Homo sapiens: one gene and its partners. The protein of the gene in region 5 purifies or fractionates together with the protein of the main gene of each other region. This does not show direct contact. Each region holds a gene or a part of one and is shown on either strand. Other genes may lie near its edges. The genes, in order: PPP3CC, STK39, FAM171A2, FGFRL1, KLRG2, ZDHHC18 and PPP3CA.

Region 1 (4,225 bases), on a different chromosome or scaffold from region 5:
CTGATGTGATAATATCAAAGGACCACACTCATCTGATAAAAAGGTCTGGTGTGTTTGTAGCTGGTGGTTTCTTAAGTCTCATTACTTTATAGTTATACCTTGTATATGCAGTTGGGGAGATAAGTTTCAAAGATGGCCAAAATATAATTAATATTTACTCTATTTAAAAGTAAACCATGGAATGGCACATCTCATTTAAATCCGATTTGGGTCAGTCATTTTAGTGTGTCCTCCAGTGACTTGTCTATTTTAAAAAGCATGTCTTTAACTTAAGTTCTGTCCTAGTCTTATGTTTTCATTTAACTTAGCATTCTTCTCTGAGCCTTATCTGTCCTACAATGCTCTGCTTCTCCCTAAGTTCATTTGTTATTTCCTTTTTCCTGATATTTCCAGTATATTAGCAACTTAGGTTTTATTCTTATTTATTCTCTTATCAATGGTGTGGACTGTTTGTGTTGTTAAACGTCTTCAAGGACTCTTGTGGCCCTAGATCTCCTATTTGTAATGAAGGTGTTTCTTTCTCACTTTCTTTTTTAACTTCATCAAAAAGAGTATCTATTGATTGCTCAATGGATTTATCAGTGTGCCAAGCTGAAACACGCCACCTAAGTCAGCAGGCACTATACAGCTCACTCACTGCTAGCTTGTTTTTTGTCTCAATCTAACCTGGTTTTGTTCTTGATTATTTCTTTAGCAAACTTTTAACATCACAGTCCTGGCCAGGCACAGTGGCTCATGCCTGTAATCTCAGCACTTTGGGAGGCCAAGGGGAGGATCACTTGAGGCCTAGAATTCAAGACCAGCCTGGGCAGCAAAATGTGACCCCATCTTTACAAAGAAAAATTTAAAAGTTAGCCAGGCAAGGTGGAGCATGCCTATAGTCCTAGCTACTCAGGAGGCTGAGGCAGTAGGATCCTTTGAGTCCAGTAGTTCGAGGCTGCAGTGAGCTGTGATCACACCACTGCATTCCAGCCAGGCAATAGAGCAAGACCCTGTCTCTAAAAAATAAAAAAAAAAGTAAAAGCCACAGTTCATTCTACCTGAGTATTCTGTCGGCTTTGACATAATTAGTAACTTTTATCTCAAAACAGTCTTATTTTCATTGGTTGTTTCTTAGGCATTTTAGAAGGAAAAAGGCAGAAAATGTGGCATTTGAAACAGTCCCTGGGGGTACTCAGTTACTCCCCATACAAGTGCCTTCTTTTCTGAAAAAGGGAACTCTATTATTCTTTTTCTTCTTCCTTTTCTTCTACTGTTGCTCTTCTTTCTCTTTCTCTCTTTTCTTTTCTCTCTCTTTCTCTCTCTCTTTCTTTTCTTTCTTTTTCTTTCTGCTTCCTTTTCTTCTTTCTTTCTTTCTTTCTTTCTTTCTTTCTTTCTTTCTTTCTTTCTCTCCCTCTCTCTCTCTCTCTTTCTTTCTCTCTCTCTCTCTTTCTCTCGGTCTCTGTCACTTAGGTTGGAGCACAGTGGCAGGAACTTGATTCACTGCAGCCTCGACTTCCTGGGCTCAAGTGATCCTCCCACCTCAGCCTCCCAACTAGCTGGGACCACAGGTGCATGCCGCTACACCTGGCTAATTTTAAAATATTTTTTATAGAGATAGGGTCTCGTTATGTTGCCCAGACTGGTCTCAAACTCCTGAGCTTAAGCAGTCCTCCTGCCTCGGCCTCCCAAAGTGCTGGTATTACAAGTGTGTGCCACCACACCTGGCCTCTTTCATATTATTTTTTTTTTTTCAGAGACAGAGTCTCACTGTGTTGCCCAGGCTGGAGTGCAGTGGTGCGGTCTTGGCTCACTACAACCTCTGCCTCCCGGGTTCAAGCAATTCTCCCGCCTCAGCCTCCCGAGTAGCTGGGACTACAGGTGCACGTCGCCACGCCTGGCTAATTTTTTTTATTTTAGTAGAGACGGGGTTTTACCATGTTGCCCAGGCTGGTCTCAATCTCCTGAGCTCAGGCAATCTGCCCACCTCGGCCTCCCAAAGTGCTAGGAGTGCTCTTTCATATTCTTTAGACTTCTTGGTATCTACAGGTATTTCCTAGTTCCACTAGTTACACGAAAGACCTTTAATCATGATTTTTAAAGATTCTTATTCTTGTTTTCTTCTGTCCACTGGGAACACACCCAAAAGCAGTTTTATAAGCTCTTGTTTCCAGTCATTCACTGTTGAGACTCACCTCCCACTTCTTTTTCCTGGGTAGAAATTGAGGGAGTTGTTGAATAATGATATATGACATATTTACCTAAACTAAATAAAATACATACACGTGAAAATAATGGAACATGTACATCATAGCCAGTGTTAGGCTTTTTAAGTGCTAGAAACTATATTTTAATTTATTTTCTTAATAATATATGGTGTACATTTTAGACATTCAATAACTTAAATTTTAAGAACACTAGATTATCCTGTAGCAAAGAAACAGGAATGAGGACGTGACCTATATCTGTCATTTCTGGAGAACTGTTACACCCTGTTTTATTTTATGACCACAGAATAATTAAGAGAATAGTGCAAACAACATTGCTGGTGATAAAGGCTAAGGAATTGGATTTTAAGACTTTCAAAATATAAAGAAAATCAGTTTGGCATCAAAGTATGTGTGCGACTATCTGAATGGTTAATATTAAACATAGCATGCTGGCAATACACTGCTGTGTATTGGAGAAATCGGCAATTTTAAAATCCGCTATATTGAATACAGAGATGACTTAATCTAATTTTGAACATTTAATTGTAAATTGCTCCAAGTTTGCCATTTGTATCTTCCAGTATGAGTTGATAACTGCAATATATAAACTCCCAGAGAGTGTATACAATCTTTGACTCTGGCTAATGACTAGCAAAACAGGCTGTGTCCATTTAATGAGTAATTTTTGCCTTCAAAGGAGAGTTGTAATTATAACCATTTGGCCTATAAAAGGAAATTATGGGGAAATTTTCCTCACGTGGATCTTGAGGTTTATATAGATAGTTACTGTGCAGTGACTCCAAAGTTTCAGTTTCTTTTGTACTTTTATTATATGAGCTCTTCAGGTAACTTTGTTCCTTGGAATAATTCTTAAGAGAATGAACTGAATAAAAGGCTTTAAAATTTTCCATCTGCCCTTTACCTAGTCAAGTCCTGACTTTACAAATGGAAAGTTCTCGAATTCTGTGTAGCAGGTACACAGCTGTACAAAGCATACCACTTGCCATGCCATGTTCCTCTGTGCCAGATTTTCTTGCTTTTTTCCTTTTTAGCTGCTGTGTTGAAATATGAAAACAATGTCATGAATATCAGGCAGTTTAACTGTTCTCCACACCCCTACTGGCTTCCAAACTTTATGGATGTTTTCACATGGTCTTTGCCTTTTGTTGGGGAAAAAGGTAAGAGAACTAAAGCACATGTCTCATCAGTTGTTTGGTGACTGAGCATACCTTATATTTGCATGAGCCCCTCCATGATTCAGAAATGTTTTCTAATTTTGTTTGTTCTCTACATAGATTTTTTTTTTTTTTTTCTGAGATGGAGTCTCGCTCTGTCACCCAGGCTGGAGTGCAGTGGCACGATCTCAGCTAACTACAACCTCCGCCTCCCAGGTTCAAGCAATTCTCCTGCCTCAGCCTTCTGAGGAGCTGGGATTATAGGCACGTGCCACTGCACCCGGCTAATTTTTGCATTTTAGTAGAGACAGGGTTTCACCATATTGGCCAGGCTGGTCTCAAACTCCTGACCTTAAGTGATCCGCCCTCCTCAGCCTCCCAAAGTGCTGGGATTACAGGTGTGAGCCACCGTGCCCAGCCTCTACATAGATTTGTAAATGGCATGTAATTGGTTCTTAAATTTTAATATATTATGGTTTTTTTATTGTAAATATCAATTTAAAGTAGCTGACCTACTATGATCAAGATGTTAAAATAACATAGTTACTTGTCATTCCCTCAGATTTCTTCAGTACTGAAGAGATTTAAACAGAATTTATTGTCCTTACAATTTTATTTGTACAGCTACTCAAATTAGCTAAGCCTGTTGGACGTAGGCCTGTTGGCTTAACTTTGTAAAGTGGGAAAAAAATTTTCTCACGTGTGTATCAGTGTGGGAAGAAGCTCTGAACAGCAATCCGGTAAAATCAAGTAATTAGGCAATAGATCTTCAAAGACTCCAGACTTTTACTGGAGCAAGTAATCTACCCAAATTCTTTTTAAACCTGAAAGTTTACATTTATGCTACTTTTTATAGCTATT
Region 2 (4,225 bases), on a different chromosome or scaffold from region 5:
TACTCAGAGAAGAGCTTAGGAGTTGCGGAATCTTAACCCCATTATTGCATTTTGCATTTCCTTCTCAATAAAGAAAAATACACTGAACTTTCCGGAAGAGGAGACTAGGGCTAAGTGGCTGACTCCTTTCTGAAGGACTGTGAATTTTATTCAGACCTTCGATAACTTGCTGTGTGTTCCTTGGCAAGTCATCTAATCTTTTTATTCCTTCCTCTTTTCTTAATTCCAATATCTACTAAATCATCGTATTTTCTTAAGAATTGGTCTAATCCTCTCCATTTCCAACCTCTCTATTCATATACAGGCTCTGTTGATTTTGCTCCTGGGCTATGGTTGTGGTCTTCTCTGCTTCTAGTCTTTTTCCTTTCTTGAACATCCCTGCATGGTCACTTTTTCCAAATGTTGTTCTTCTCTAACGAGAGAGGGAACAACAGCTGTTAATTGAATCAGGTACAAATTCCCTTACCTGGTGCTCAGACTCTGTGGTTGGTTGGGCCCCTCAACAATCTCACCCAGTACTTCCCTGCTTTTAAAAATAATGGCCTCTGTGGAAAAGAAGCTGCTTGTAGGAAAGAACTCTCAGGGTCCCCTGAAGCTATGGGGGCTCCTATTGCTCCAGACTCCCACCCAGCCACTTAGGCATCAGTGTCTCTTTTAACTCATTGTAGCTACATTTTAGGAAGCTCTGAACTCTCAAACATTGATCCCGTTACTCTCTGATCAAAGAGAGTCAATGTTGTTCATGCACAACTCAGGTTCCTTTTCAAAGAGAATAGCAGATACTGTAGAAGTTTGAGGTAGGTGAGGCTTGGGTACTCACCCACAGCTTCCCTTACAGGTTTTAGAGAAATCAACTTTCAGACCAAATTTTGCCCTTCATTAGCAAGCAAGCCCCTAAACAGTTCTCACAATTTGTTCTGTAAGCTCAAGGAAATCCCAGTTCTTTTTCCTCATAGGTGAATGAAAAATTCATTAGAGGCAGACATGCCAAGATTCCAGATGCAGTTTTTGCTTTATCCTTATGCTTGCTACTAGGAATCCAACCATCCACAGAACTGGCTAGGGTATAGTCTACAGTTGGACTGGACTGGATTGTTTTATTCTGTTCATGCAAGAGTAAGGAGTATATCTAAAATATTTTAGCCACTCTCTGGTGCTAAGAACCTTTATTTTCAGCAGTGAAAGCCCATTTCTAACATGTATCATACCTCTCAACAGGTCACTGTTTTCCCTAATAATAACCCCTTTGGACAATCAGTCACCTGGCTTATGCTCATCTATATTTAGATTTGGATAATAGAAATACTTCCAGCAGCTGCCTCTGGCATCCTGAGTCGAGTGCTATCAGAACCCCCCCAGCACTGGACATTCTTGGTTAGAATGCCAGCTGACCACCTAGGTTGTGGTATCACAAACATAATATCACATGGCATATGTTGAAGTATTTTAGGTACATTTTAGACATCATAACCACACAGTTGGCAGACTTTAGTTTTGCGGACTAAATTAGGCAGGAGAAATCGCTTTTCTATTTTTTTAAAAATGAATTTGTTGCCAACTACAGTAAGAAAGGGAGCTTTTTCATAAAGATTCCAATGTTTGGCTTTTTTGGGAAAACTGGGATATCCAGCAATCCTGGGTCTACATTTCTCTATGGCAACTTTCTTCTGGTGCCAAGCAGCAGGGGCCTGCCTTGGACCTTGGTGGGAGGGTGCTGACAGTGGGCTCCAGGGCTTCACACAGGGCCCAGCACTCCTAAAGTCTCCCGTCACAGAGACTGAGCATCAAGGGCCCTTGTCACTGAGACTGTAGCTGTTGTTTTTCAGGACCCTCTTTTCTCCATTGTATTCCTGCCTGGCTGCTGTAGGTGTTTTGAGTTTTTGACCCTTGCAGCTGTCAGTTTTTCTTCTTGGCTCCACACTTGTGCTTTGCTCATGCCGTTTCTTTGTCTGGAATTTGTTTCCTGTTGGACTTGCTCATCCAAGTCTTCACCTCATCTTGAAGGCTGGCTCCAAGACCCACTTTGGAGATAGTCTTCTATGACCATTATGGTTATAGCTCCTCTGCTTCTACACAGACAATATAGTATTTGATTTTATACATCTTATCCTACTTAGGTGGGAATATTCTTTTTTTTTTTTTTCTGAGACGGGCTCACTCTGTTGCCTAGACTGGAGTGCAGTGGCATGATCATGGCTTACTGCGTCCTCGACCTCCTGGGCTCAAGCGATTCTCCCATTTCATCCTCCTGAGTAGCTGAAATTACAGTTGCATGCCACCGCACCCACCTAATGAACTATCATGCCCGACAAATATTGTTGAAGTCAAGAAACATGTCTTCTCCTATTTTATCTCTGCCACTGTAAAATATTTATGCTTATCCCCTCAGCCTGCTTGCCTTGCTTATGAAAAGGCAGTGAGTAGCTTATCGATCTACCTAACAGTTGTTATAAAGAATAGTCATACATGGTAAAAAAAAAAATGAGTCTTATAAATATGAAAGTAATATAGAAATTGAGGCTCGGCATGGTGGCTCATGCTTATAATTCCAGCACGTTGGGAGGCTGAGACAGGAGGATCGCTTGAGCTCAACAGTTTGAGAACACCTTGGGCAACATAGAGAGACCCCATATCTACAAAAAATAAAAATAAATTAGATGGGCATGGTAGCACATGCCTGTAGTCATAGCTGCTTGGGAGGCTGAGGTAGGAGGATCGCTTGAGCATGGGAGGTTGAGGCTGCAGTGAGCCATGATCATGCCACTATGTTCCACCTTGGGCGACAGAGCGAGACTCTGTTTCAAAAAAATAAAATAAATAAATAAAAATAGGCCTAAATAAGAAGCCCAATAAGGCCCAGAAAGTTTAAGTCCCTTTCGGGAGTCATACAGTTGGGTAATAGTCTAGCCTTAGGCCTAATCACTGTTAACACTCAGATCTTGCCCATTAGTCCTGTAATGTTTCCTAGTAGATCTGCCACTCTCCAAATCAGATAACCATACCTGCAGATCCTCCTCAAGGCTTAGTAGCATTCACACATCAAAACTAGACCATGACCAATGTTACTGAAATCAAATTACGCAAAGGTGATGAATGCACATCAAATTACTCACCAAGAGCCAGGGTGCCGGAGATGCTGTGTCATTAACAAGGTCATGCAGAAAGCCTTCTGCTGGTGCACCTGTTCAGCATGGAGGGTTGATGTACCTAGACGACAAAGCATCATGTGCAAGGGCAATGCTGGTGAGGCCAAGGAGGTGATGGGATCAGGGAATAAAAAGTAAGTCATTCAGTAGGCTGGAGCTTACTGTCTGAATCTGAGAGTAGTGATATAGGTTTACGTGTTATGCTGAAGGATTTTGACTTTTTCCTGAGGGGACAGGGAGCCTTGAAAGACTTTTTTTTTTTTTTGAGACAAAGTCTTGCTCTCTTGCCAGGCCAGAGTGGAGTGGCATGATCTCAGCTCACTGCAACCTCCGCCTCCTGGGTTCAAGCGATTCCCCCGCCTCAGCCTCCAGAGTTGCTGGGACTACAGGCGCGTGCCACCAGGCCCAGCTGATTTTTTGTATTTTTTTAGTAGAGATGGGGTTTCACCATGTTGGCCTGGATGGTCTTGAACTCCTGACCTCGTGATCCACTTGCATTGGCCTCCCAAAGTGCTGGGGTTACAGGCATGAGCCACCGCTCCTGTCCTGAAAGTCTTTTAAGGAGGGCTCAGGCCTGTGACATAGAAAGGCCTGGTTGCTGGAGCCTGGATCTGGGGAAAGAAGGGAGATGGGAACTTAGGAGGCTGCTGCAGAAATCTTAGCAAGAAGTAGTGGTGGATTAAATGAAGGCAGTGGCTGTGGAGGAGCAAAGAAGTGGATGGATTCAGAAGGTCTTAGACCCTTTTTGTTATTAGGATGACAGCATTATTTGTTGTTGTTGTTGTTTTTCTTAAAGCAGCATTTACCCATATCCTCCAGTTATTCCTGGAGGCAGGGAGATGGACTGGCTAACTTTATGTGTAGCCTTTGATTCTGTGTTTCTAGAGAAATGTCTGTGGTTTTGTACCCAAGTGAATCTGGCTGCATTCCCTTTGGCTGTATAGATGTACCCCTTAGGAAACAAGGACAGCTTTTCACTGTTACAGTTCTGCCACCTTGTTCTAACTGTCATATGCAAGCTATCTCAATATAATATACCAATTTTTTGTGTATATAACATAAGCACACTATGTACTTTG
Region 3 (4,225 bases), on a different chromosome or scaffold from region 5:
GCTAGTCAGCAAGCAGCACCCCCTCCCCTCCCAGGGGTCCACAAAGAACGCCCCCTCCCTTCCCAGCCCTCACACTAGCAGCTGAGGCTGGGTCACCCCTCCTGCTTTCCCACAATAGAGCTTTCTATGTACAGCCACGTCTACACAGGCACTGCTTCCCCCCAGCCCTCCTCCCCGGCACCTCCCCGTGGGGGTCTGGACCCCCCCTCCTCCCCGGCTTGGAGGCAGACACAGGGTCCCTTGCAAGACACGACCCAGCACCAACCACGGAACAGCTCCAAGGCCCCTGGGCCCCTCTCCGGCCTGGGGCTGGGAGCTACGCGCGAGGGCCCCCGCGGGCCCCCGGGGCGCGCACCCTGGGTGCGGGCCCGCGCGGGAGGGGCGGTGCCAGGCCCTGCGCGGGCGCTACTTGACGTTGAACACCATCAGCGGCCGCTCCTCCCGCCGCTGCCACGGGCTCTTCTTGTCTCCCGCCTCGTCGCCCACCTCCGCCCCCAGCTCGTCCTCCGGGCTGGTGAGCGAGTCGCGCCGCAGCTCGCTGGCGCTGCTGCGGGAGCTGTCCCCGCGGCTGCGGCCCCGCCCCCGGGGTACCGTGGCCGCCCGGCCCTCGGGCGCCGCCACCTCGTCCAGCAGCGGCGTCAGCGAGTTGTCCTCCGGAGAGCAGAGGCCCGTGCGGCTCTCGCTGCTGCTGGGCTCCGTGTCCTCGCTGAGCGCCAGGCGCGGGGGCGCGGGCGGCGGCGGCGGCGCGGCAGGCGGGGCGCGCTCCCGCTCCTCCCTCGCGGGCCGGCGGCGCGCGGGCCGCGCCTCGTGGACATCTACGCCCGAGTCCAGGCTGGCGTCGGTGCTGCGTGCCCCGCCGCCCGCCTGCAGGTCGATGTAAGAGTGGCGCACTTGCGAGTTGGAGCGCCCGTCGAGGGACACGAACCAGGCGCGCGGGTGCGGCTTCACGCCCAGTTCCAGCAGCTTCTTCTCGGTCAGGGCCTGCAGCTCCCCGTTGAGCTGCGCCATGGTGGACTCGTTGAATAGCACAGGGATGGTGACTGAGCCACTGACGGGCGCCGCGCGCCCGGCCCCCCAGCCCTCGCCGCCGCCCCCGCCGCCCTCGCCCCCCGGGCCCGAGTGGCCCGGCATCTGCGGGCGCTGGGGGTCGGGCTGGGGAAAAGCGCGCGCCGGGCCGGGTGCCGTGCCCTCCGGCGGGGCCGGCTCGTCGCCCACGCCGGCGGCGCCCGCCTCGCCGCCGAGGCGCACGTAGTGCGCGGGGATCACCAGGGTGGGCATGACGTTGCGGTAGACGTTGTCCTTGAGGTGGTCGATGGAGCCGCAGAAGATGAGCTGCCCCGCCTGGCCCAGCGACGGCGGCCGCGCCAGCTGGTCCACCGACTGCGACAGCAGGAAGTCGGGGGTCTTGCCCTCGGCCGCCCCCTTGTGGCCCAGGTAGTGGTCGAAGGGCGGCGGCGGCGAGGGCGGCTCGTGCAGGAAGGCCGCAGCCCCCGAGGGCCCCCGCCGGTGCTCCTCTAGGCCGGGCTCCAGCCCGCCGGGGCCCTCGGCCGAGCGAGCGCCCTTGAGCCCGGCGCTCTCGCCCCCGCGGGCACCCGAAGGCTCGGCGGCCGGGCGGCTGGCAGAGCGCGGCTTGGTGCGGAAGAAGTCATCCCGGGAGGAGGCCAAGTCCCGGGAGCTGGAGAAGGCCGAGTGGAGGGGGCCTGGAGGCGGAGCCTCGGGGTCCCCCGACGGGGCGGGTTCCAGGGGTCCCCCACAGATGAGGTGGAGCTGGGACATCGAGGTGGCCTGGTCTCGTTTGTTACCGTCAGAGGGCCCCGAGAGCTGCAGCTTGCGGTGCTGTTGCCTCGGCTTCAGGCAGCGCCTCCTGGAAGGGAGGGAGCAGAAGGGGCCGCTCAGGAAAGGGTGAGGGCCAAAGTAGGCCCCGAACCCCCTTAGATGCAAGACAAGAGACGAATATAGTGGAAGAGGTGGGGAGAATGCCTGGGGCGCTCAGGAGAGATGGCGGGGAGCCGCCGTGTCCGTTTGGCGATCCCCTCAGGGTCAACTCTGCACTCCTCTGCATGTAGGATGTGCTGCGAGAACCAGGGATGAGCATCTAAGCTGTCTATGGGTGTGTCCGGCCTGGAGTCCTCTGGGAGAGAGAGCTGGGCTGGTAGGGGCAGTGGCAGATCTCTCTGGAGGGGCCGGGCTGCAAGTCCTTAAGCCCTGCCTCCCCTCCCACCTCCCCGCTGTCTTCAACCACCAGCACCAGCCCTTCAGGTCTTAGCATGTTTGCAGGAAGTCTTTTCCTGTCTGCCCCTTGAGGACCAGAAGTGGATTTTATGCATCTTTGGGGCCCCAGGGCCCGGTACAAGTGCAGGGGAGGGTGAGGGAAGCCCCGTGCTCACCGGCAGTAGTAGATGAGCAGACACAGCAGGATAAGCACCAGCAGGGCCAGGGCTGCCAGGATGGTGAGCAAGAAGATGGTGTGGTAGGTGCCGATGTCCTGGATGCCCGACGTGATGGTGACCAGCCCTGTGCCAGGCGAGGGCTTAGCGTTCAGGTGTAGACACCCTTCCTGCCTTTCAGAAGTCTGCTCTCCCAGCTCCCCTCCTCCGCGGCCTCTACGCCCACTGCCCCACTACTCTTACCAGCCGTGGGGGAGGCCATGGCGGCCACCCAGTACCCCAGCTGGGGGGAGACGAAGGTCCAGTAGAGCTGCCGGCCTTCCTTCCGGATTACACCAGTGCCATTGCGCACCCACAGCCCTGGGAGAGGCAGGGGTTTTGTCACACTTGAGTCGCTCCCACTCAAGTCCCACTTTCTTCTCTCAACTCAAGCACCTGCAGCCCCCTGAGGCACTTACCACTCTTGGGGTCAAATCTCCAGGCTGGAATGCTGGTGCCCACGGTGAGGGCACGAGTCTCGGAGGGCACGGGCAGGGACAGGTGAATGGGGCCTGAGAGCGGCACCTCTGTCCCATTACCTGTCAGCAGGTGCACGCTCACAGCAGTCAGGGGCATCAGCTCCAGCCAGGAGCCATTGCCTGAGGGAAGAGGGTACAGGGCTGAGGGCTGATCCTGAGCCTGGGGAGACCCCATCCGTGCTGGGCACCCAGCCTACCTGAGCTGGAGGCCTCAGTGCCCAGGAAGGCAGGGAAAGCCCGCATTTCCTGCTGGGTGCTGGCAGGCGTAAGTGACGCCCAGAGCTGGCTGTAGGTGGAGCTGACAGGCAGGCGGGCAGCCCGGCGCTGGAACTGCACCAAGGGCTGGGAGCGGGCACCTGGAGGGAAAGAGGGGCTGCAGTGGCTTGACCATGGACAGGGATCCCCAGGGACCAGAGCAGAAACCCATTATCTAAGGAAAAGGGGGACATGAGGTCAGGCCACTTTGGAAGGCCAGGGAGGGTGATGCCTTGGGGAGAAAGCTGGGCAGTCATGGAATGTTAACCTGGAAGGGACATGGACCTGAAATCTCTGTGTGACCCTCAGCAATTTACTTGTTTTAGTAGAAAGTTTCCTTATAGAACCTATAAAATGTTGCGATCCAGATCCTCAAACAGTATTGTCTACTATGTGGCAGGCACCAGGTTAGACACTGGGGGCCCAAAGATGAACGTCTGCTGTGATGGGAATGTTTTCTAGGTGTGCTGCCCATTATGGTACCCACTGGACACACGTGGCTGTTAAGCATTTGAAATGTGGCTAGTGTGACTGAGGAACTGGATTTTTAATTTTTAAAAATGTAATGATTTTTTTCTAGGTGGGTGCAGTGGCTCATGCCTATAATCCCAGCACTTTGGGAAGCCAAGGTGGGTGGATCACCTGAGGTCAGGAGTTGGAGACCAGCCTGACCAACATGGAGAAACCCTGACTCTCTTAAAAATACAAAATTAGCTGGGTGTGGTGGTGCATTCCTGTAATCCCAGCTGCTCGTGAGGCTGAGGCAGGAGAATCACTTGAAACTGGGAGGGGGAGGTTGCGGTGAGCTGAGATTGTGCCATTGCACTCCTGTCTGGGCATCAAGAGCGAAACTCCATCTCAAAAGAAAAAAAAAAAAAAGGCCGAGCGCGGTGGCTCACGCCTGTAATCCCAGCACTTTGGGATTCCAAGGCAGGTGGATCACGAGGTCAGGAGTTCAAGACCAGCCTGGCCAAGATGGTGAAACCCCATCTCTACTAAAACTACAAAAATTAGCCAGGTGCGGTGGCAGGCGCCTGTAATCCCAGCTACTCGGGAGGCTGAGGC
Region 4 (3,611 bases), on a different chromosome or scaffold from region 5:
CCCAGGCAGGGGAAGGGGTGAGGTGGGGACCCAGACAGGGGGTGGGGTGGGATGGGGACCCAGGCAGGGGATGGGGTGGGGCGGGGACCCAGGCAGGGGATGGGGTGGGTTCCTTTCTGCCAGGAAAGGAGGCCTCTGCCAGGAAAGGAGGGCTCGGCTTCTCCACATAGGGTGGGATGGTGCAGGTGGCCATGTGGAGCCGCAGCCTTTCTGCTCCTGTGGGTTTCACAGGTGGTGGGAGGACATACTGGCTGCCCCCCAGACAGGAGCGGCAGTGCCCGTGGTCAGCCCGAGCTACGTCTCTCCAGAGGCTTGCTCTCTGACCCCAGGGCCTTGGGGTCATGCCCCCTCAAGGCTAAGGTGCCTGGCAGGGTACGGCCCTTGGGGGTGGGCAGACAGACCTGGGCATCTGTGGTCCCTGAACTCAGGTCTGATATTGACACAGACGTGGGTGCTGCACAGACTCTCATCCACACATTGCACAGGCTCAGGCAGCCCGCCGTGCTCGGTTGCTTGTGGATAGCTGTGGGGTCGCTGGCCCATGCCCAGGCCCGGCTGGGCCCTGGGCTGATGGTTGGGTGGGAATTAGGTGAGGGGCCTGGGGCCTCTTTGGGACCCACCAGGCCCCCCATCCCCCTACTGCCCTTGTCCTTGGGGGGCCACTGTCCCCTCTGACCTCGGGTGTACGGCTGCTTCCTGTATGACCAGAAGGAGACTCTGCCCTTTTGGTTGGTGGTTTTCGAGAGTTACCAAGCGCAGCTGTTTTGCATCCTCTGGGGACCCTGCTCCCTTCTCGTGTCTCAAAGAGCCAGCCTCTGGGGCCACGGGGCTGCCCCGGCCATGAGAGGCTGCTGACGTGGTGTTTGCTGGGCCAGTGCTCAGGGCTTTGGTGCATGTGGGCAGCTGAGGCCTGGGTCAGGGGCACTGCACCTCGGCCCCTCTGCTCATCTTGGGCAGGTGACCCAGGTGGAGCTCAGGCCCGAGGTCTGTGCTGGGCCGTGGGTCCCCTTTTGACCGCCCCCCCGGCTCCGGACCCCAAGCCCCTCCTCGCTGACTGTTCCTCGGTCCCACCCGCAGGCCCCCCAAAGATGGCGGACAAGGTGGTCCCACGGCAGGTGGCCCGGCTGGGCCGCACTGTGCGGCTGCAGTGCCCAGTGGAGGGGGACCCGCCGCCGCTGACCATGTGGACCAAGGATGGCCGCACCATCCACAGCGGCTGGAGCCGCTTCCGCGTGCTGCCGCAGGGGCTGAAGGTGAAGCAGGTGGAGCGGGAGGATGCCGGCGTGTACGTGTGCAAGGCCACCAACGGCTTCGGCAGCCTGAGCGTCAACTACACCCTCGTCGTGCTGGGTTAGTCGCTGCTGCGGTCAGAGGTCATGGGCTGGGTTGGAGCCAGGCAGGGGTGTGCAGGAGGGCGGACGGGGACACACCTGGGGCCCGAGAGTCAGCCAGCCCCCGGCAGAAAGCCTTCCTTCGGTGCCCTGCCCCACCTCAGCTGGCTGCACCTCTGCCACCATCCCCCAGGTATCCTGTCCCGTTCCTGTCCCCGTCAGGCTCCAGCCTCGGAGCCTTCCTCCCAGCGGAGGGCGGAGGGTGGAGGGCGGGAGCCGAAGGCAGTGGTCCCACAGAAGGGCTGGGGCCCGAGGCCTTGGCAGGGTGTGCCGGCCGTCGGCTGTGACTTTGAGGCTCGGGTTTCGGAGTTCAGAGGAGCCGCCGGGATGCGTGGCCTTTCTGTTCTCTTCTGCGCCTGGGGCCCGGGCGCTGGGCTTGGACAGGTGTCCAGAGAGACACGCCCTCCATACCTAGGGACCCGGCACCCCGCCTGCTCCGCTGGGCTCCTGGGTGTGGGGCCCTCGGGTGGAGCTCCTGGGAGCTGGGCTGGCCCGTTTCTTTTTTTTTTTTAATTCTACTTTAAGTTTTAGGGTACATGTGCCCGTTTTCTGAATACAGGAGCCTGGCCCAGGCCCCAGCAGGGTCTGGGGGTGCGGCCTGAGACAGCCTGGTCCTGGGCTCAGTGAAGGAGCGGCTGTCACAGGGTGGATGGAGGGGACATTCCACAGCACGCCCTGCCCCTCGGCATTGTGTGGAATGGGAAAACTGGCTGTCCCCCACCCCCACCCCACAGTCCTTTCAAAGGGGACGATGACCGGGTGGTATGAGAGTCTCGTCTGTTCACCAGCCCTCGGCCCCTTGATGTAGGCTAGGGTTACTGCAGCTGCTGGCCGGGCCCGGCTCCCTCCTCCCCCGGGGCCTGCAGACCCCCCGGAGCCAGAATGGGGGCCGGCCCTCCAGCCCCACCCGTGCCCATCAGGGTCACCTGCGCCCAGTGTGGGCCAGCGGCCCTTGCCCAGCTGTCCCTGGGATTCTGGGCTGTGGGTGTGTGGCGCAGCCCCCTGCCTGGGTGTCCAGGGCTGTCCCGGCTGGGGCTGGGGGAGCTAGAGGCCACGGGGGAGTTGGGGGAGCTCCTCAGGGCCCCCCTCACCTGCCCTCCCTGTGCACCTCCGTCTCTCTGCAGATGACATTAGCCCAGGGAAGGAGAGCCTGGGGCCCGACAGCTCCTCTGGGGGTCAAGAGGACCCCGCCAGCCAGCAGTGGGGTGAGCAGGGGGTGACGGGGGTGGGGGGCGTCCGTCTGTCCCGGCCCCTTGGCTGCATCCCCGTCCTCTGACCTCCACGCCACCCCACCCCGCAGCACGACCGCGCTTCACACAGCCCTCCAAGATGAGGCGCCGGGTGATCGCACGGCCCGTGGGTAGCTCCGTGCGGCTCAAGTGCGTGGCCAGCGGGCACCCTCGGCCCGACATCACGTGGATGAAGGACGACCAGGCCTTGACGCGCCCAGAGGCCGCTGAGCCCAGGAAGAAGAAGTGGACACTGAGCCTGAAGAACCTGCGGCCGGAGGACAGCGGCAAATACACCTGCCGCGTGTCGAACCGCGCGGGCGCCATCAACGCCACCTACAAGGTGGATGTGATCCGTGAGTGTGGCCCCGGGCGCTGGCGGGCGGGGGGTGCTGGTGGGCGGGGGCGCTGGCGGGCGGGGGTGCTGGTGGGCGGGGGCGCTGGTGGGCGGGGGCACTGGCAGGGCTTGGGGGTGGTGGGCTGGGGGTGCTGGTGGGCCCAGGGTGCTGGCGGGGTAGAGTCCGGCGCGGCCCAGGAGCCATGCCCGCGTGCCACGTTCCCACAGAGCGGACCCGTTCCAAGCCCGTGCTCACAGGCACGCACCCCGTGAACACGACGGTGGACTTCGGGGGGACCACGTCCTTCCAGTGCAAGGTGCGCAGCGACGTGAAGCCGGTGATCCAGTGGCTGAAGCGCGTGGAGTACGGCGCCGAGGGCCGCCACAACTCCACCATCGATGTGGGCGGCCAGAAGTTTGTGGTGCTGCCCACGGGTGACGTGTGGTCGCGGCCCGACGGCTCCTACCTCAATAAGCTGCTCATCACCCGTGCCCGCCAGGACGATGCGGGCATGTACATCTGCCTTGGCGCCAACACCATGGGCTACAGCTTCCGCAGCGCCTTCCTCACCGTGCTGCCAGGTGCGCGGCTGCCACGCCACGCCACACCATGCTGGTGCCCGGACCCGCCCCCTGGGCCCGGCGTCCCACCCA
Region 5 (4,225 bases):
GAGGTGGGTGAATCATCTGAGGTCAGGAGTTCAAGACCAGCCTGGCCAACATGGTGAAACCCCATCTCTACTAAATTGGGCGTCATGGCAGGTGCCTGTAATCCCAGCTACTTGGGAGGCTGAGACAGGAGAATTCCTTGAACACGGGAGACGGTGGTTGCAGTAAGCCGAGATTGTGCCACTGCACTCCAGCCTAGGTGGCTGAGCAAGACTCCGTCTCAAAAATAAAAATTAAAAAAATAAAAATAAAAAAGAGACAGCTCTATTCTGTGAAAGTTGTGGAAACCAAGGGGAGGGAGGAGCACCTATTTCACCTTGGAGAGGGTCAGCCCAGTGTCCGTTAAAAAAGCCACCTTTAAATCAGTTCTGAAGGATGGAGGAGGTGGCAGCAACAGGACAATCATCACTCTAATTCCCAGGGCTTGTCTTTGTTGACTTAAACCATTTTCTTAGGGAAGAAGAACTGAGCATATGCGAAATTCATTTATACCGCTCTGCTCCTAACCTGCCTCAGTGTGAATATGTGCTTCTTGACATTGTTGTGAGTGATATGTACTTGCTAGTGTAGTCTTTTTTTTTTTACATGGCATGATTTCATATTTACATTTTCCTGCATAATGACATTTTCTATACACTTGTCATTTTTAATAGCACTATAATTTTCCATCATGTTGACATCCTATAATTTACCTTGTTATTTCTTGATTGCTGAGCGTTTGGGGAGTTTCCAGTTTTTCTTCACAAATAGCACCGTGTTATCTTTAGATAAGTTCATTTTTTTCCCTTTATATTCTTGGATTTATTTCTCAGTGAAATCACCCATTTGAGCAGGAGTGGTGGTGCTGCTCTTGTCACATAGCACCAAACGACATTTCAGAAAGAACAAGCTGATGCGGGCCGTGCCGGCATCACTGCCCCCTCCACCACGTCCCCACCCTGGGACTTAAAAGATTTAAACTTTTTTTTCCAAGTTAAAAAATCTTGGCCGGGCGCGGTGGCTCACGCCTGTAATCCCAGCACTTTGAGAGGCCGAGGCAGGCGGATCACGAGGTCAGGAGATCGAGACCATCTTGGCTAACACGGTGAAACCCCATCTCTACTAAAAATACAAAAAATTAGCCAGGCATGGTGGCGGGTGCCTGTAGTCCCAGCTACTCGGGAGGCTGAGGCAGGAGAATGGCGTGAACCCAGGAGACAGAGCTTGCAGTGAGCCGAGATCGCGCCACTGCACTCCAGCCTGGGCAACAGAGCGAGACTCTGTCTCAAAAAAAAAAAAAAAAAATCTTGGCCGGGTACAGTGGCTCACACCACTAATTCTACACTTTGGGAGGCTAAAATGGACAGATCACTTGAGGCCAGGAGCTCAAGACCAGCCTAGGCCAACACGGCAAAACCCTTCCCTACTAAAAATACGAAAATTACCTGGGTGTGGTGGTGCATGCCTGTAGTTCCAGCCTCTCAGGAGGCTGAGGCGGGAGAATCGGTTGAACCTGAGAGGCGGAGGCTGCAGTGAGCCAGGATCGTGCCACTGCACTCCAGCCTGGGTGACAGAGCAAGGCTCCATCTCAAAAAAAAAAAAATCTTAAATATATACTTTAAAACATTGTCTTTTTTGCTTTAATTCATTGTTAAAAATAGTGTGACATTGAGGGCAAATATTTAAAAGAAAAAAGTCTCCTCTAGTACCTCTCCAGCACACTTACTTTGGTTTTTGTTGTTCCTGCACATCTGCGTGTGTTATTATTATTATTATTATTATTATTATTATTATTATTATTATTATTTTGAGATAGAATTTCCCTCTTGTCAGCCCAGGCTGGAATGCAGTGGCGCAATCTCGGCTTACTGCAACCTCTGTCTCCTGGGCTCAAGCGATTCTCCTGTTTCAGCCTCCCAAGTAGCTGGGATTACAGGCGCCCGCCACCATGCCCAGCTAATTTTTTTTTTTTTAATAGAAACGGGGTTTCACTATGTTGGACAGGCCGGTCTCGAACTCCTGGCCTCAGGTAATCTGCCAGCCTCGGCCTCCCAATGTGCTGGGATTACAGGCATGAGCCACCGTGCCTGACCACCTCCCTCGCTTTCTGAGCTTCCTTGTTTCTTTGCCCACTCAATGCCCACTGAGCATCACTTAGTGGTGTTTGGCGTTCACATCCCTTTGGCTGAGACGGGGTCACCCTCATTTTGGCCCCCAGCCCTGAGCACAGAACCTGGCACCCAGCAGGCATCCAATCCAGCTTTCAAGGTTTTTTTGTTCTGCAAGTGCTGGCTTGAGCAGATCCTTCTGGATTGGCCAGCTGGGATCCTGTGGAAGCCCCAGGGAATCCGTACGCCCCAGGCAAGCCACGCCAGTGTCCAGGGGAGTGACCAGCTTACTTTTCTCCCTCAGGACTTCCTGGGCAGATACCCAGTCTCCAGGCACTCCTGGGTGGGGGCCTGGCGAGGCCCCCAGGGCTGGCACTGGATCGACGAGGCCCCACTCCCGCCCCAGCTGTGAGTGACCACGGGCTTTTCTCCCTCCTCTGCTGTTCTGGATCCTCCATTTCTCCCCAGACTCCACCTCCTTGCTGCTCCCCTAGCCTGGAATGCCACTTGGAAAGCAGCCCACGCCCATGCTCGCGGCCTGGTGCCTGATTAGACCCTGTCGCTTCACTCTTTATTTGGGTTCCCAGCACGTTCACCCAAGCAGGGTTGTCACCCCCATTTTACAGATGCGGGGTCAGCTGCCCAGGGAGGTTTGGGGATTCATCCAGTGCCACGTGGCTGACCAGTGCAGTGACTCACTCAGTGCCCAGGCCGGTAGAGGTGACAGGCACACACGCTGGAGGGTCTGGCTGGGAAGCAAGGCCCCGGCACCCTAAACACCTCTCCTCTTTCCCCTCCCATCCTTTCCCAGACTCCCTGAGGACGGCGAGGACAATCTGGATATCAACTGTGGGGCCCTGGAGGAAGGCACGCTGGTGGCTGCAAACTGCAGCACTCCAAGACCCTGGGTCTGTGCCAAGGGGACCCAGTGATCTGGGCTCTGCCTGGTCCTCAGCCTGCCAGGCAGATGCAGCACCCCCTACAGGGGAGGCCAGTTGAGAGCTTGGGCAGCCTCTTCCTGGACCCAGTTATCCAGGTCTTCATGCTCTGCTCAAGGGGGCCACATGAGCGAGCCTAGGAGCTGGACTTCAACCCAGGAAGATGCATCCGAGGGAAAGGAGATTTTCTATGGCCTCAGGCCTGAGTGCCAATATTAGTCTCCAGCTTCTGTGGATGATCGGTTTGATGACATTGGGATGGTTGTTTAGCATTTCTGTGCCTTGGTTTCATTAAAATGACAATTTCCCCCTAGAGGAAAAAGACAGGGTTAACAACCACAGCGGATTCCAATCTGGGTTCTCATTCCGGCTCATGGAAATGAGTCTGCCGTTGTTCAGTGGCAGTGGGACTTGGCAGGGATAACGTCATTGCTGTGAATTCTACTTCAGGCAGCTGGGTGTACATCGGACACAGCCTACCGGCAGCCTCTGGAAAATTAACCAAGGAAAAGGAGCGGTCAGCCCTGGAAAGAGGGGAGAGCAAGGTTTTCCTTCCCCACCCTGAGAGTTGGCAAAGGGTTGGCAGACAGGAAGGTTCTGGGTGGAGATCCCGCATGTGGGCTGGCCAGCCCCTGGCACGCTGATGCCCAAGGGTGAGACAAGGCAGAGAGGACAGGGCCACCTGGCAGGAGAAGCCAGGAGAGCACCCCAGCTTGGTAGGTGGAAGCTGAGGAGTCTGAGTGAAAAAGGAAATCAGAGAAATGCAGGCACGTTCCAGGCAGCTCTTCTACCCACAGCTGCAGAGACGACCAACCTGAAGATGTCTCCATGCTGGGGTGCAGTGAAGACCTTCAGGCTGGAGGATGTGGCTGACAGAGTTGTGTAGTTCCTTGAGTCCAGCTAGACCTCCAAACAGCAGGAGCCTGGGCCTGCGTGTTGGCTTGGTGCTGAGCACGCACTCAACTGGCCCTTGCAAGCCAGCCTTCCCTCAAAAGTCAGACCATGCACCCAGATCCCTCCCAAACAGAAATCCTTATTGGTGCGTTTGAACCAGTAATGGGCCGTCTGGGAGAATGGGATGGAGAGTCCTAGATGGGAGAAATTTCTCACACTGTATTTTTCATTAGTATTATTATACTTTAAGTTCTGGGGTACATGTGCAGAACGTGCAGGTTTGTTACATAGGTATACACATGCCATGG
Region 6 (4,225 bases), on a different chromosome or scaffold from region 5:
GATGCTCCCCATTGCTCTGGGAAAAGGTAAGGTGCTCTCTAAGCCTTTCCTGCTATGAATGGCTTTGCTTCTTTGTTTGGCTTGGTGGATTGTTGCACAGGCCTCCAGCAGGGCTCCCAACTTCTGCCTTACTTCTCGCCCCCACACAACAGCCAGAGTGCCCTTTTGATTCTAACTCAGGCCTGAATCCTCCCTGGCCTCTGTCCCCTGCTGTCTTCTGTCCCCGTCTTCCCTCCAGGCATGTCATCCTCCGTGCACACTCCTACCTCTGGGCCAGTGCTTGGAATCCCCTTCCTGCAGGTGGCCTCATGGCTCACTCTCTCACATTAGGCCTCCCCTGTCCATCCGCACAGCATAGCAAACCACTCCCCTCCTGCACCTCTCTTCTCCCCTCATTTATCGCTCTCTGAAGCATTTGCCACCACCTGACATATTATGGTATACTTGTTAGTTTCTGGTCTTTGCCCATGAGAGCAGGACATTCTCCTCTGTTGCACCCTTAGTGCCTAGAACTCGCACCTGGTATGCAGTAGGTGCTCAATACTTATTGAATGAATGAATTGACAGTGTATTTGAATTAATTGACAGTGTATTTGCTGGGAGGCTGGAAACCCTAGTTCTGTCATTGGCTGGCTAGATGACCTTGAACCTAGCTGTGGGCCTGGGAGAGCTGTTAGCCTCTGGCAAATCAGGAGGCTAGGACTTGGTGGTTCCTGCAGGCTCTACAAGTCTTAGATTTCAAGTCTTCTCTGTCCCCCCACACAAGTCTGATTGCATATGAACTGGATTCATTGCCATGTGGGTGACACTGAGCGCCCACTGGTTCTGTTTGAGGGTCAGACCCAGAAACCATTGAGATGTATGGAGCAGAGTGTGACCCACTGGGAGCCCTTGGCCTTGGCAGTCTGCTCCTCAGGGGAAGGGCTTCTCTGAAGGCCAGAGCATCTGATGACGGAGACTTCAGAAGCAGCATGCAGGTGCCCACAGGTGTGTGCCTACTGTGCCACTCCTGGAAGCTTGGTTGATCTCAGGCCTCCCAGGGCCCCGTCATCTCCTTACCTGATCAGGTGCTACTCTGGCTATGGGGTGATGGTTAAAAGTATGAACCTCAAAGTCAGACCTGGCTTGGGTCCCACTTTAGCACTCCTGAGCCATGTGACCTTGGGCAGATTACTTAAACTCTCTGAGCTCTAGTTTCTTCATCTGTAAAGTGGGGAGCATAACTTCACAGGGTCCCAGTGAGGATTTGATGAGAAAGTACACAGGAACTGCTTAGCCTGGTACCTGGCCCATCCAGGTACAGTAGTACAGTAACTATCTGTAGATAGTACAGTAACTATCTACATAGTACAGTAACTATCTGTACATAGCACAGTAACTATCTGTACTTTGGATGTTGCTAACAGTAGTTTATTAATTAGGGCAGTGTCTGGCACATAGTAAGCCTTCAAAAGATGGTAGCTATTTTTCTGTCCCCTGGCAGCAGTTATTTACCGGGTACGTCCTTGGTGCCAGGTGCTGTGCAGTGTGCTGGAAATATAAAGCTGAACAAGAGAACATAGTCTATACCCACAGAGGAGCTTATGTTTTTTTATGTTTGTTTGTTGTTGTTGTTGTTGTTGTTGTTGTTGAGATAGAGTTTTGCTCTTGTTGCCTAGGCTGGAGTGCAATGGCACGATCTCGGCTCACTGCAACCTCTGCCTCCCGGGTTCAAGTGATTCTCCTGTCTCAGCCTCCTGAGTAGCTGGGATTACAGGCACATGCTACCACACCCTGCTAATTTTTCTGTTTTTATTAGAGATGGGGTTTCATCTTATTGGTCAGGCTGGTCTCGAACTCCTGACCTCAGGTATCCGCCCACCTCAGCCTCCCAAAGTGCTGGGATTGCAGGCGTGAGCCACTGCGCCTGGCCAAGCTTATGTTTTAGTGAGAGAAAAATAGCCATCACATAGACAAGTAGCTGAAATCTATACTAAATGTTATACAGGAAAGAAAGAGCATTGAAGTTCACTGTGTACAGAGTTGTCAAGGTAGGTCCTTCTGAGGAGGGAAGAGGAATCTGAGAAAAGGAACAGCAAGTGCAAAGGCCCTGAGGTAGGAGAGAGCCAGGCTTGTTATAGGAACTGTCATGGGCTATTGTGATGGGAGGAGCAGGAGCAAGACGAGAGTTTTGTAGAATGAGGCTGAAGTCCTCAGTAGGGCCCAGATCATGCCTGGCCTAGAAGGCCATGGTAGGGAGTTTGGATTGTATTCAAACTATATGGAAAGCAATTGGGAGGTTTTAAGCAGGGAAATGACATGATCTGATTGACATTTCCAAAAGTGGCTCTGGCTTCTGGGTGGACAGTGAGGTGACAACAGAGAGGATTGGCCATAGAGAGAGAGCCCTGATAGCTTCACTATCATGAAGCCATTCTCCCACCAGTGTCCAGAACTTCTAGAATGTTCTAGCCCTAAGATGGAGGAGGGAGCTTGAAGAGGGCTGTGGTAGGCAGCCTCCCTGGGGGACAGAGGCATGACCATTCAGCAGGCACAGGCTATTCTCTGAGGCAGCCAGGGTCAGGGGGTCTGAAAGCACTGCCTTGGGGATACCTGCCTACCTTGGGTCACAGTGACAGTGGCTGGACCATGCAGTTCCCCCAGCCCTCTACTCATTCTTCAGGTTGGAGCTTAGGATTGTCTCCTTCAGGTTGCCTTTCCTGACTGTGCTACTGCGTTCCCCTCCCCCACTAGAGCACACATCACCCTGTGTGGCAATTCCCTGTTTACATGTCTTGTTTTCCCCACTAGACCATAAGCCACAAGGGGGAGGGACTCTTGTCTTATCCGTCGTCATTATTCCTGCTGCTTATTGAAGGTGTTGCCTGCCACAGAGAAGACCTCAGTAAATATTTGTGGACTGAGTGAGTGAATGAATGAGTGAATGAACACTGCAGGATGGTTTGTCTCAGGTGACAGTCCACTAGTGTCTGCCTGAAGCTCTGTGTGTAGAGGGATTCTCTGGATGCAGAGGTTAGGAGTGCTGGGATCTATTGGACACATCTGCCATGTGCTCTGGAGGAAAGTATATCACAAGGATCAATTAGTGATGTCTGTTCCCGGTACTTATTGGGGAGTGGCTGCACTCATCAAGGAGCTGTGCCTCTGCCTCAGAGCGAGGCTGTATTCAAGATTTTGGTGGTGGTTGTTGGAATGACAGCGCCTGCCACGTGCTGTAGCCCTGTGCCGCAGGGAGCCCTTGGGGTGTCTGCTGATCTCTCTCCATCTCTCGTTCTAGCTGTCCCTACCTGGCTCGCAAGCTGACCCTTGCCATCCCCATCATCGCTGCCATCCTCTTCTTCTTCGTCATGAGCTGCCTGCTGCAGACAAGCTTCACCGACCCTGGGATCCTGCCCCGGGCCACTGTCTGTGAAGCAGCCGCCCTGGAGAAACAGATCGGTGAGGTTTCTACTCCCAGCTGAAGCTGGGTCTCCATAGCTCCACATTCCCTGACTTGGGAGGAGGCCTGGTTTTCTCTTCCAAAACTATACTAGGAACTGGGGATGCAGTCGTGAGCAAGGCAGGCTGGAGCTGACACTGGCACAGAGGGAGACAGATGATCAACAAGTGAGCAAATAAGTAAGCAAGAAATGCTGGCCAGCCAGCAAAGGCCCCGATGGCAGCCAGCGTGGAGCTGAGTAGTTCCTGGGGGCTAGGCACTGTTTTAAGCTCTTTATATGCATGATCTTATTTAATCCCCCAGTAATCCTATGAGGTAGGTACTGTTGTCATTCTCCTTTTACTGATTAATTAAATCAAGGCAAAAGAGGGTCCAAGATCACAAAGTAAGTAGAAGAGCTGAGATGAGACCTCAGTCTAGAGCACCTGCTCTTAAACATTCATATACACTTATTCATTCACTCATCAAACATTTATTGACCCCCTACTATGTGCCAGGCACTTTTCTAGATGTGATACAGCAGTGAACAAAACTGACAATAGTCCCTGTCCTCATGGAGCTTGACAGTTGAGGAGGAGGAAAGAGACAATAAATAACAAATAATTAAATATCTAGGATATCAGACAGAGAAGAAAGGAGGGAAGGAGGATGAAGGCTACAGGGAGGGTGTGTGATTTTACATAGGGTGGCCAGGGAACATCTTGTGAAGGAGGTGACATCTGAGCAAAGAAGCACCGGCCTGAACAGATGAGGGCTTGACGGTGGGGTTATCTAGGGAAGAGCCCA
Region 7 (4,225 bases), on a different chromosome or scaffold from region 5:
AAACAAAAAGGACAGCAAAGTTCTATTCCTCTCTATGATGGTCTCAAAAAGAATCTACCTGAATTCCAAAAACATAGCATTTTAATAATTTATTGCCACTTTGTCAGTGAGGGCTTTTATTTTTTTAATATCTAAAGCTTCCACTACCCGAGTGCATATTTGTTAAAACGGATTTGAGATACCAGCAACTGGGCTAGGTCATAAAGTTGATAACCCATCTGATTTAAGCCATTATTCAGAACCCCTAACCATGGAGGAATACACAATTGTTATTTCACTTCTCATATGAAATATAATTGATGGATTCATATAAAAGATGGAATTATTGTAAAATAAAATGATTTTAAAATGCTGAAAATGTCAAGAGTACTAAAGACTTAATTTACAAACTGAAATCCTATTTCATTGCCTACATCAGTCCTACCTAATGACTGCTTTAAAAATAGGAATGCAACACCTCAGAATCACTGGCTGATATTTTCACCTGAGCCTGCTCTAGAAATTAACAAAATCATCAAATCTGAAGATTTTGTTTGTCAAACCAGAGCATCAGTGTGGGTCATTAAGTGGAGTTCAGAAAAACAGGCTTAAGACAACATCCTTCAAAATGAAAGTAAATAACATTCTTTTGCAGGAGAGTATACTATTCTATTTCTGTGTATATATTTACCTGAACAGAAAGCAATGTTTAACAGTATTTCTTTATAAACCTCAGGCCAAGGTCAGACTAAATTATAATATTTATCACCAGAATTTGATGTCTGCTAAAAACAGAAATATAAAAAGCTTCCTCTCCTAATCAAACTATTTTACATAGTTAATTATTTAGTAAAACAAAATGCGAAATGAAATGTGAAGATATCTTAAATATACCAAAAGAAGTGGCCATTTTCTTTTTTTCTTTTTCTTTTTTTTTTTTTTAAGAGATATGGTCTTGCTATGTTGCCCAAGCTTCCACCTCAGCATCCCAAAGTGCTAGGATTATAGGTGTGAGCCACCACACCTGGCCAGTGGCAATTTTCAAAAATGTTTTCAAGCAAGAAAAGCCTCTTTAATAAAGAAAATAATGTGTTTACACTTACCTGTAACCATTCTATCTATTCTGTCTCCACTTCTTTAACTATAAAAATAAATGTCATCATAAGCTACTCTTGACCCAAGGCACTCATGGCTTTCAATGCTAATGGTTCTGACTATTCTCAGGTGACCAGAAAATACATAACACGTGTCATTTCTAATTCTGTGTTAGCAGTGACTGAATCGCCATTACCAGGCAGTGGACAAAGTGTTAACCACACACTCCCCATTTCCCATTTGATTATCCTTCGGTCCTCACAAGTTGACAGTGGATACAATTACTCCCCTTTTATGTATAGAGAAAGTTAGCCTGTGAAGTTATAACATATACCAGTGGAATTACAGAAAGCTGAAGTTCAAGGTCTCACCATATCCCTCTTGTATATCAAGAGACTGCTACATCAGAAAGTTGCTGGAAAAAAATTGACAAAATGATTTTTAGTAATTATCAAAATTCTATATCATGAATCACCACCATTCTTCATAGTTCTAGAAGTATTCAAAATGGTAATTTAACCATATTTGCTAAAAGGAGAGTGAGTATCTGCAAAAATGCTGTTTTCCAATGAGGTCACCCTAAATGGATTCTTTATTTGGTGTCATAATTAGTTTCAAATTTACACATAGCTGACACAAAAAAAGATAAGGAAAAGCATGAGAGGCCAATTACAAAAGTTATAAATGAATGGTCTATCAAAATTATATTTCATCTCGCTAAAATTACAAATAAAACAAAGAGACAAATAGATTTTAAAAGGCATATTTTTAAACAAATCTTAGAGTAAACCTCATTAATTAGATTCTAGATGTTAATTTTTTCCTATTTTAACTGGATGTCTTAAGATAAACTGTCCATTTAAAATAAGGGTTCTATCCCACACTTCTCAGAAAAACTATTATCTTCAAAATGTTGATTATTCTAATTGATGGCATTTTAGAATCACTGGAATTCCCCTGAATCCCAGTCTCAATTGTTGCATTAATCATTAAATTTACTGAATGTTTTTACAACAATGCACTTGTGTTATATTCACTTTATAATAGTCCCAAAAGGAAATGTTAATAAATAGACCAACCTAACTCGTAACGAACAGGATGAATTTGCATACTGTTCACTAAGTATTGAAAAGAATTTGTTCTCTTGGTATATTAACAATGCTGGAACTATGTTGTTTATACTTTTTGGTTATCGGACCCCTTTCTTCACATCCAATGCTGATGTAAACTTCAGCCAACAAACACTGGTGTTTTTTCACAATAAATTTAAATTCATGATATTGAATTAATAAAGTTTCACTATACTCAAATTGAAAACCAGATACATGAAACTCAACTGATGGTAACAAAATGTCAGTAAAATAAATTCACAAGCTCTTCCTGGAACACCACAAATAAATGACATTATTTACTACTCTGTTGCATCAAGGTCTAAACACGACAGTTACTACGAATGTGACATATTTGTTTTCTTTTTAAGTAGTATTATCAGTCTCACCCAGCTAGAAATACTAGTGGCTGGAATCCTTATTTACTTAATAATACTTAACTAGCATCTTCTTGCTTCTATGATCTTAGCATCTTTCAGAATTCTCCTATGTGTACTCTGTCTACATGAAGTACGTAAGCTGGCAATACACCTGAAAAACAGCTCATTCTCTATGGCCAAAAGCAACCTTACACAAAGCACAACAACGCATTATCTATAGTTTCTGAGAGATTCCACAAAACTCTTCTCAGAAATTTATCCCTCAACAGCCTCCCATAGTTTCTAAAATTTCTACCATTACCATCGGTTTGAGTTAAGGTAGAAGTCCCATCACAAAATACTTGGAGATGGGAACAGAGGGAAGGTAGGTTAAGAGATTTAACAAAGCCAAATACTCATTATCACATAGGGTTTAATTTCCTCTAAGTATTTTTAACTATCACATAGCAAAGTTCCATGACCAATAGGGAATGCTAGGGCCAGACAAAGCATTCTAGGCAGGAACAGAGAGAAATGAAGAAAAGCCAAAGTTTGAGACAAGGCCTGTAGAGTATCACTAAGAGAAAAATCAGGACGGGGGTCAAGGGGAGGAAGACAGTTATTCTTCTATTTATTGCCCTCGGTTTGCTGTATGTATCTTTAAAAATATAATGTAAAGCAATAAACGGACCATATTATTTTGATTTCCAGCAAAGGTCATTACCAAGATGTTTTCTCTGAATTTTTCTACTTTCCATTGTTTTAATCCAAGAAGAGTCAAAATGATACAGCACTAGTTTTGCTAACTGAAGTAACTTTCTCTCCTGGGATAATCTAAACAAATACTTTTCATCTCCACTGCCATCATTCTCTTTCATTTTTAAGGTTTAGAAAACCGATCAGGGTCTCTGAATACATGCTAGCAGATTCTATAAACCTCAAAAATAACATAGTTGAGACAGACTCAACCTACGTCTCTAAAGCTGCATTCTAAAAGTACAATTAAGAAAACAGTCACATCATATTACTACAAACCACAAGCACATCTTTATTTGTAAATAGCAATTTCTTATACAACAAAAGCCAGATGACACTAATAAATATAACTGTAAGCAAATGCCATGGCATGCCATGGTAATAACAATCTGAATATTTATTTTTGTATGTATATATAGTAAATAATACTACACATACTTCGTAAAAAAGAGAAAACTTATGGAGCACAAATACTTCCTCAAAGATAATTTCTTTTCTGTATTAAAGAATGAGTTAAATAGCCATTGAGATGAAGTTCTAACAAAATTTCAAGTAAATAATGGTTTCTAAACTCCATATTATCTAATTTTTGCAAATTAAATCACTTGTTAATATGTTTCACATCCAGCATACGCGTACTTTCCATTCATTCAGTACGTGTATACATACTCAAGGGGAAATATTATTTCACAGAAAGCTAATAATCAAAATAGATTATCTCAAATAACTAATAATAAAAATCTTATGTATGACAAAAGGTTGAATCCAACCTTGTATAATGCCTTTCATGCCAATAATATTCTACAAGAAAACAGGATAAACAATAACAGTGTATCCACCTTAAAATCAGGATTCATCAACAAAACTTCTATAAACAAAATTTCACATTTCACATCTCACATCAGGATCTCTATCAAAACAAATGCA

Evidence for each region.
Region 1: the proteins of KLRG2 (region 5) and PPP3CC purify together in Homo sapiens (affinity purification with mass spectrometry; 2 studies listed by BioGRID and IntAct, with this or other methods). This does not show direct contact.
Region 2: the proteins of KLRG2 (region 5) and STK39 purify together in Homo sapiens (affinity purification with mass spectrometry; 2 studies listed by BioGRID and IntAct, with this or other methods). This does not show direct contact.
Region 3: the proteins of KLRG2 (region 5) and FAM171A2 purify together in Homo sapiens (affinity purification with mass spectrometry; 2 studies listed by BioGRID and IntAct, with this or other methods). This does not show direct contact.
Region 4: the proteins of KLRG2 (region 5) and FGFRL1 purify together in Homo sapiens (affinity purification with mass spectrometry; 2 studies listed by BioGRID and IntAct, with this or other methods). This does not show direct contact.
Region 6: the proteins of KLRG2 (region 5) and ZDHHC18 purify together in Homo sapiens (affinity purification with mass spectrometry; 2 studies listed by BioGRID and IntAct, with this or other methods). This does not show direct contact.
Region 7: the proteins of KLRG2 (region 5) and PPP3CA purify together in Homo sapiens (co-immunoprecipitation; 3 studies listed by BioGRID and IntAct, with this or other methods). This does not show direct contact.

What each region holds. Positions count from the first base shown.
Region 1 is NC_000008.11:22,524,151-22,528,375, forward strand, and holds part of PPP3CC (serine/threonine-protein phosphatase 2B catalytic subunit gamma isoform), read left to right. Parts: intron 1-3,241; coding exon 3,242-3,367; intron 3,368-4,225. UniProt on the Homo sapiens protein: Calcium-dependent, calmodulin-stimulated protein phosphatase which plays an essential role in the transduction of intracellular Ca(2+)-mediated signals. Dephosphorylates and activates transcription factor NFATC1.
Region 2 is NC_000002.12:168,142,899-168,147,123, reverse strand, and holds part of STK39 (STE20/SPS1-related proline-alanine-rich protein kinase), read left to right. Parts: intron 1-4,225. UniProt on the Homo sapiens protein: Effector serine/threonine-protein kinase component of the WNK-SPAK/OSR1 kinase cascade, which is involved in various processes, such as ion transport, response to hypertonic stress and blood pressure.
Region 3 is NC_000017.11:44,353,328-44,357,552, forward strand, and holds part of FAM171A2 (protein FAM171A2 precursor), read right to left. Parts: intron 3,262-4,225; coding exon 3,103-3,261; intron 3,026-3,102; coding exon 2,846-3,025; intron 2,748-2,845; coding exon 2,631-2,747; intron 2,515-2,630; coding exon 2,388-2,514; intron 1,865-2,387; coding exon 406-1,864; 3' UTR 1-405.
Region 4 is NC_000004.12:1,021,126-1,024,736, forward strand, and holds part of FGFRL1 (fibroblast growth factor receptor-like 1 precursor), read left to right. Parts: intron 1-1,077; coding exon 1,078-1,350; intron 1,351-2,515; coding exon 2,516-2,596; intron 2,597-2,691; coding exon 2,692-2,976; intron 2,977-3,185; coding exon 3,186-3,539; intron 3,540-3,611. UniProt on the Homo sapiens protein: Has a negative effect on cell proliferation.
Region 5 is NC_000007.14:139,452,379-139,456,603, reverse strand, and holds the end of KLRG2 (killer cell lectin-like receptor subfamily G member 2), read left to right. Parts: intron 1-2,389; coding exon 2,390-2,493; intron 2,494-2,896; coding exon 2,897-3,017; 3' UTR 3,018-3,914; downstream 3,915-4,225.
Region 6 is NC_000001.11:26,829,170-26,833,394, forward strand, and holds part of ZDHHC18 (palmitoyltransferase ZDHHC18), read left to right. Parts: intron 1-3,277; coding exon 3,278-3,438; intron 3,439-4,225. UniProt on the Homo sapiens protein: Palmitoyltransferase that catalyzes the addition of palmitate onto various protein substrates, such as CGAS, HRAS and LCK. Acts as a negative regulator of the cGAS-STING pathway be mediating palmitoylation and inactivation of CGAS.
Region 7 is NC_000004.12:101,340,302-101,344,526, forward strand, and holds part of PPP3CA (protein phosphatase 3 catalytic subunit alpha), read right to left. Parts: intron 1-4,225. UniProt on the Homo sapiens protein: Calcium-dependent, calmodulin-stimulated protein phosphatase which plays an essential role in the transduction of intracellular Ca(2+)-mediated signals. Many of the substrates contain a PxIxIT motif and/or a LxVP motif.